2 linked regions of the Homo sapiens genome follow. The protein of the gene in region 1 interacts with the protein of each later gene in a pairwise test. Each region holds a gene or a part of one and is shown in the gene's direction. Other genes may lie near its edges.

Region 1 (3,506 bases):
AAATTGTTGAAGAATATTCTTGCCAAGCAACATATCACAACCTAAAATATCCCCTGTGAGATGTGCTTTCCTGGAGAGGACCTGCCTCTAGTGTTGCCTTGTGTGTGGAGAGGGGGAGCCTGCAGGGAAGGGCTAGGATGGTCAGGATCTCTTCAGTGCATGCCCTCAGGCCCACAGTGCTGACTTCTGCCAGCCTGAGGACAAACGATTATTGCATGTTTATTCATGTAGTCAAGAAATAACAGCACTGAGCGTCTACTCTAACCCTGTGCTGGGTGCTGGGGCATCAGATGACAAAAAAGATAAAGCTCTTGCCCTCACAGAGCTTAACTTCCTGGTGGAGGAGATAGGTAGATAACAAACAGGTAAACATAAATTAATATATTCAGGTGGCAATATGTGCCAGGGAGAAAACAAAACATAGATGCAATAGAGAGCCAGGAGGAACCACTTTGGTTTAGGGGTGGTCAGAGAAGGCCTCTCCAGAGATGTCAAAGTGAGCTGAGACTCTGATGGTCAGGAAAAAAAGAAAAAGGCAAGAAAGCATCTGGGGAAGAAGGAACAAGCTCAGCAGCTTTGAGGGCTAGAAAGGAGACCAGAGTGCTGCAGATTCACAGGCAAGGAGAGGCAGGTCAGAGAGGTAGGCAAGGCCAAGTCATGCAGAGCCTTGGAGGCCAAGGGCAAGCGTTTGGATTTCATGCTTTAAATAACAGAGAGAAATGATTTTATTTCTGTTGTAAAAAGATCACTGTGACACCTAGGTGGAGAGCAAGGGACCATAGGAGGTAAGAATGAAAATAGGGTATCCTGGTAAGAGGCCGTGGGTGAAATCCAAGTAAGAAATGATGGAGCCTTAGCCTAGAGAGAAGCAAAAGAGATGGGATATGTATTTGTATAGGCCGGGGGTGTGGAGGTTTTTTCTAGCCATCTCATACCCCTCACCAGCCATTTTGACCTCTCTGGGCATTTTATCAGTTTCCCCATTGTCCAATCTGAGAGCAGTCTCCAGGGAAGGAGAGAGCAGTCTCCAGGGAAGGAGAGTCCAGCCTCCTCGGGCTACAGGTTCCACTGCATCACCCTAGAACCACTCTCTTCCTGGAATAATATCAGGAAGTTCTTCTTGGTGTCTACATTTCCTGCTGTGATCCATTTATTTTTGAGAGAGGGGCAAAAGTGGGCCAAGACTCTGGGATCAAGGGAGATTCTTAGCTGTATAACCACCTGAGAAGCCCCGCTCTGGGGAGGCCAGAATAAGAACTAGAAATCAGAGTTTGATGTTCAGGTTAGAAGCCATGGATGAGCTGCTGCTGTATTTCAGTTTTCCTGCCTATTCCCCAACCCAGCTCCACCCATCCTGGCATCCTGGGAGAGCTCTTCGGATCACCAACCTTGGGAATCCCTCCCCTCCTTAGCTGCACATTAAGGGGATGAGGCACCTATGTACTCAGCCAGTGTCCTTTGCCTTCTGCAGTGGTCCCAGTCACCAGCCTCCTGCTCTCCCACTGTCATCCTCCTTTTTTATTTTATTTATTTATTTTTGAGATGGAGTCTTGCTCTGTCGCCAGGCTGGAGTGCAGTGGTGTGATCTCAGCTCACTGCAACCTCCACCTCCCGGGTTCAAGTTATTCTCCTGTCTCAGCCTCCGGAATAGTTGGGATTACAGGCGTGCCACCACGTCCAGCTAATTTTTTTTTTTTTTTTTTTGAAATGGAGTCTTGCTCTGTCACCCAGGCTGGAGTGCAGTGGCCTGATCTTGGCTCACTACAAGCTCCGCCTCCCAGGTTCACGCCATTCTCTTGCCTCAGGCATACTCCTGCCTCAGGATTAGCTGGGACTACAGGCACCCGCCACCACACCCGGCTAATTTTTTTTGTATTTTTAGTAGAGACAGGGTTTCACTGTGTTAGCCAGGATGGTCCTGATCTCCTGACCTGGTGATCTGCCCGCCTCAGCCTCCCAAAGTGCTGGGATTACAGGCGTGAGCCACCGCGCCCGGCCTAATTTTTGTATTTTTAGTAGAGACAGGATTTCACCATGCTGGTCAGGCTGGTCTCAAACTCCTGACCTCGTGATCCGCCCACCACGGCCTCCCAAAGTGCTGGGATTACAGGCATGAGCCACCATGCCCGGCCTTTATTTTTCATTTTTTGGAACAGAGTCTCACTTTGTCACCCAGGCTGGAGTGCAGTGGCATGATCTCAGCTGACTGCAACCTCTGCCTCCTGGGTTCAAGCAATTCTCCTGCCTCAGCCTTCCGAGTAGCTGGGATTACAGGTGCCCACCGCCACGCCTGACTAATTTTTTAATTTTTTAGTAGAGATGGGAGTTTCACTTTGTTGGCCAGGCTGGTCTCAAACTCCTGATCTCAAGTGATCCTCCCACCTCAGCCTCCCAAAGTGCTGGGATTACAGGCATGAACCACTGCGCCCAGCCACCCCCCTATGTGATTTTATTTATTATTTAATTTTATTTTTCTTTTGAGATGGAGTTTCACTCTTGTTGCCCAGGCTGGAGTGCAGTGGTGCGATCTCAGCTCACTGCAACCTCTGCCTCCCAGGTTCAAGCGATTCTTCTGTCTCAGCTCCTGAGTAGCTGGGATTATAGGCTCCCGCCAACACGACCAGCTAAGTTTTGTACTTTTAGTAAAGATGGGGTTTCGTCATGTTGGCCAGGCTGGTCTCGAACTCCGGACCTCAGGTGATCCACCCGCCTTGACTTCCCAAAGTGCTGGGATTATAGGCGTGAGCCACCATGCCTGGCCGCCTCCTATGTGATTTTTAAATCCACAGGATCCCACTGCTTATAATGCCTGCCCATCCTAGATATGACTGTTGTGAGCTTTAAGGGAGTTTTGTAAACTCTGAGGGGCGAGGCTGTTTCACTTCAGAAAAATGGAGGAAATAAAGACAAAGCATCTAGAAGAAGAAAGACTGGAATCTGCTCAGACAGGTTCTGAGAACAGTCTTCCCTCCTGGGTCTTAGTGGAGCCCAGAGGTGGAAGACACTAGGACCTAGGGTGGAGCAGCCTTTAGTCTCAAGCAAGCTTGTCCAACCCGTGGGCCTGTGGGCCACTTTCAGCCCAGGGTAGCTTTGAATGCGGCCCAGGCCCAACATAAATTCCTTGTAAAATTTCTTAAAACATTATGAGATTTGTTTGTGATTTTAAGTTCATCAGCTATCGTTAGTGTTAGTGTATTTGTGTATTTTATGTGTGGCCCAAGACAATTCTTACAATGTGGACACCCCTGATCTAAAGGCTGTTGGTCCTTTCTTGGCTGTTGCTAATCTGCAGGGCTGTAATAATGGAGCCTCCCAGGGGACAACCAGGGCTCCGCCCCAAACTCACCTCTGACTTCTCTCTGCAGCTCAGGTACCAGACAGTGATGAGCAGTTTGTTCCTGATTTCCATTCAGAAAACCGTGAGTAGAGGTCCCTGGGGAGAGGGTATAGGGAGTGGAGGATGGCAGGAAGTGAGTCATAGGATAGAGAATCACAAGAGAGCAGCT
Region 2 (3,506 bases), on another chromosome or scaffold:
GTTTGGCAACTATAAGGAAGTAAGCTATATTGCTGGTCTTGGTGATTTAATTTTTGCTGAGAGAGAGGATATGATCCAGGTTGAGTTAATCCATAAAGTGGACTTGCTCACCAAGTCCACTGTAAGGAGATTCGTACCAGAGTTCTCTCTAGAGCCTTGATACATATGTCACTTCAGGGACAAAGCTAATGGCATGGTATCCTGAACACAGCTATTGCAGTTTGCAAATGGGGTACAGGAGGGGTTAAATTCCTCCTGAGAGACAGGTTATAAAGGAAAGACGGGAGTGTCGGAGAGACATTTCTAACCTGTGAGGAAGGCTTACACCCTTGGAGTAACTGTGGCCTCACTCAGACTGTCCCTTGGAATTTCTGCGAGAAGACCTGGGCCTGCCCCAGGAAAGGGTGGCTGAGTTAGTGGCTGATAGGCAGTCGTTGTGTCGCTGCTCTGAAGGCACCACTGACCATGTTCCAGATGCAATGGGAAATCAAATGATGGAGCAGCTCCTCCCTTGTGGGAGTTTATGCTCCAGTTGAGGAGATAAGCTTGAGAGTGGGAACCATTAGTTCACAGGCCATGATGGAGCTCAGTGTTGATGGCAGACCACAGGTGCTAAGAGAGCAGATATTTGGAAAATATAAACAATAGGCTGCCAAGAAAAACTGCAGCTGGGCCCCTCTCATGAATATCCATATAAAACTGACTTCAGCTGGTTCTTCCCATCCTTCCACATCCAGGCTCTGGTTTTGGGAAAAAAAGCAAAGACATGTCCACAGAGCGGGACTTCTTCATGAGGATGAAGTGCACGGTCACCAACAGAGGCCGTACTGTCAACCTCAAGTCAGCCACCTGGAAGGTAGGGCAACATCAGGCCTGGGTTGGAGTCCCAGGTGTAGGGTAACGGCGGTGCAGGGGATGCCTAAGGCCCTACCCCCACCCCCAGCACTCTCGGCTCCATGTCTGACCCTTCCACGCCTGTCTCAGGTCTTGCACTGCACGGGCCAGGTGAAAGTCTACAACAACTGCCCTCCTCACAATAGTCTGTGTGGCTACAAGGAGCCCCTGCTGTCCTGCCTCATCATCATGTGTGAACCAATCCAGCACCCATCCCACATGGACATCCCCCTGGATAGCAAGACCTTCCTGAGCCGCCACAGCATGGACATGAAGTTCACCTACTGTGATGACAGGTAGGGGGCCATGGGTGTGTATGCTGTGGGCAGAGATGGGTCTTACCTGTGTGTGTGGGGAGTTGTGCCTGTATTAAAGGTGTGGAACTGAACATAGACGTGGTATTGCCGGGTGCATGTTCGTGGACCTGTGCCACTGTTTCATTGCATCAGTGCCCCTCAGAGGTTCCCGGTACTGTATTTGGTGGTCTCCCATTGACAGAGCCTCAGGGTCCATCTGCAGAGCTTTCCTGGTGTGCAACTCTTCTCATCATTGTGGTGTGAACATATTTCTCCATACGTGTATCAGGCTCCTGAGGAAATTCTCAAGGCAGTCTTCTGCCCCAGGAGAAAGAGTCTAGAGACTTCCATCTGTACTCCTGCTTCAGAGGCCAGTAAGGAGCATCAGCTTCTGCCCTGGAGACTGACCCTCTTCCATTACTGACTGAGCCTTTCCCTCCGCCTTGTTCCTTCCTGCATGCAACTCCATTCCGGCCAGTGTCCAGCCATTTTGAAGAAGATGAAGGTAGCTGAGCCAGATGCTAACCCCCCAGTGCCAGGCCCAGTGTCTCTTAGGAGACACAGTAGTGATTAAGAGCATGGGCTTCAGGACTAGATGGCTTAGGTTCAAATTTAGTAATAAATGTTCAGTGTTAGCTCTTATTATCACCTTTATTAGAGTTGTTGAAAGAGTGCCTAAGACTGCTTAGGCATGTCATGCCATCTCGGGTTCTTAGCTCATTTAGAAGATTGAAGCAGGTGGGGAAGAGACTGGGGTTGTCATAGGAGGGAGTATTTAGATACCCTACAGCTCCTAACTCCCCCACCAGCCCTGCCTCTGGGACTGTGGAGCCTGATGATGGGAGGTAGGAGGAGGAAGATGGGGAGAACAGATGCCCGGAGCAATGGCCGGCCCCAGGGAGGGAAGGAAATGCAGAAGACTGGGCCCAGGGTAGGCCTGGCTTGAGTAAGCGCCACTGGGGCTTGCTGAGCAGCACCCCCCGCATGCGCCCTTCCTGGCAGAGATCTCCCTGCCTGACCTCAGCTTTCTGCAGCATCTAGAGCCGCCATGTGTCCCAGGGTGACAGTTCCTGTGGCAGCTCTTTGCCACCCCCAACTCTTTGCCACTCTTCTCTCATCTTCTAGGGTTTCTCCTCAGGAAACCCTCAGATCTCAGTTTCCCCTTCTCCAAAATAGAGATAACACTTTCTAACCTGTTTCATGGGGTCACTGTAAAATGAGATAATGGCTGTGCAAGCACTTTGAGAAGTCCAGACACCACAACACATGTGAGGCTTCTTGTTATTGCTTATATCTTACTTCCTGTCCTTGGCCTCCTCCAAAGCAAAATCTTCCACTAAACTCAAGGAGCTGAAACCACTTCTGAAGGCAGTTAGTGGCTGGGGGGCAGGAAGAGGAAGAATCTGACCCCCAGATCAGCAAGAATCTGCCTTGTCTTCCTCAGCTAGCAGGAAACCATGGAACCCCAGGAAAAAAAGCTCCTGCTCAGCCTCCCCTAGGCCTACCCACTTTTCTCTTATCAGCTGGACATCCCAAGGGCATCTGGTTTCTTCATGGGAGGGACCCTCCTCTCCAGGATGGGGTTTCTCTCCTCTGATTCCAGACCGGCCTGGTGTTGGTTGGTCGCCCCTTCTTAGAGTTGGCCACCACTTGTGGCACAATTTCAGAACTTTTGTAAAAGTATCCTTGAGTCATTCCTGTCCTTCAGTTCTGACCACAGTAGGGCCAGGATTCACAGCCTTTGGAGCTAGTGGGTAGTTATATAAGTAGAAAGAAATGCTCTAACCTCATAGGGAGAAAATGTCATGCATGAAGCCTTCCGTCCTGGAACTTCGACACAGTCACCATTTATTGTAATTGTTAGTGGTGGTGGTGGTGGTGGTGGTAGTGGTGGTGGTGGTGGTGGTGGTGGTGGTGGTGGTGGTGGTGATAATGATGGTGGTTCAAGAAGAAGATTGCACTTTTAGTGACAGGCACTGCAGGAATCCATGTTATAGGTAAGGTTATTTATCAGATGCAGTCTTTGTATTCAGGTGAACATTCTGGGCAGAAGACACAGCTTTGTGTACCTCAGTAGTCTTGTGAGATAACATGGACAATCCCACTGCATAGCCCCTGTGTCACTGGCTTTGAGGTGAAGTGGCTCAAGCCGACGTAGCCATATAGCCTGGGAGCATATATAGTGCTGGGGATGATGAAAGTCAGATACGTGCTTCACCCTGGTGAATGAAGCACATCCGTAACATAACTCCATAAGCACTGGGAAAACCCTACTGTCCTAGAAAATAACTTGGCATCCCTACATAATAGAAAAGA

Evidence for each region. The genes of interacting proteins can lie anywhere in the genome.
Region 2: the proteins of ETV4 (region 1) and EPAS1 come close enough for resonance energy transfer, tested with the Homo sapiens proteins (one study listed by BioGRID).

What each region holds. Positions count from the first base shown.
Region 1 is NC_000017.11:43,536,339-43,539,844, reverse strand, and holds part of ETV4 (ETS translocation variant 4), read left to right. Parts: intron 1-3,070; exon of another isoform or gene 3,071-3,365; coding exon 3,366-3,419; coding exon of another isoform or gene 3,420-3,433; intron 3,434-3,506.
Region 2 is NC_000002.12:46,359,901-46,363,406, forward strand, and holds part of EPAS1 (endothelial PAS domain-containing protein 1), read left to right. Parts: intron 1-737; coding exon 738-856; intron 857-984; coding exon 985-1,190; intron 1,191-3,506.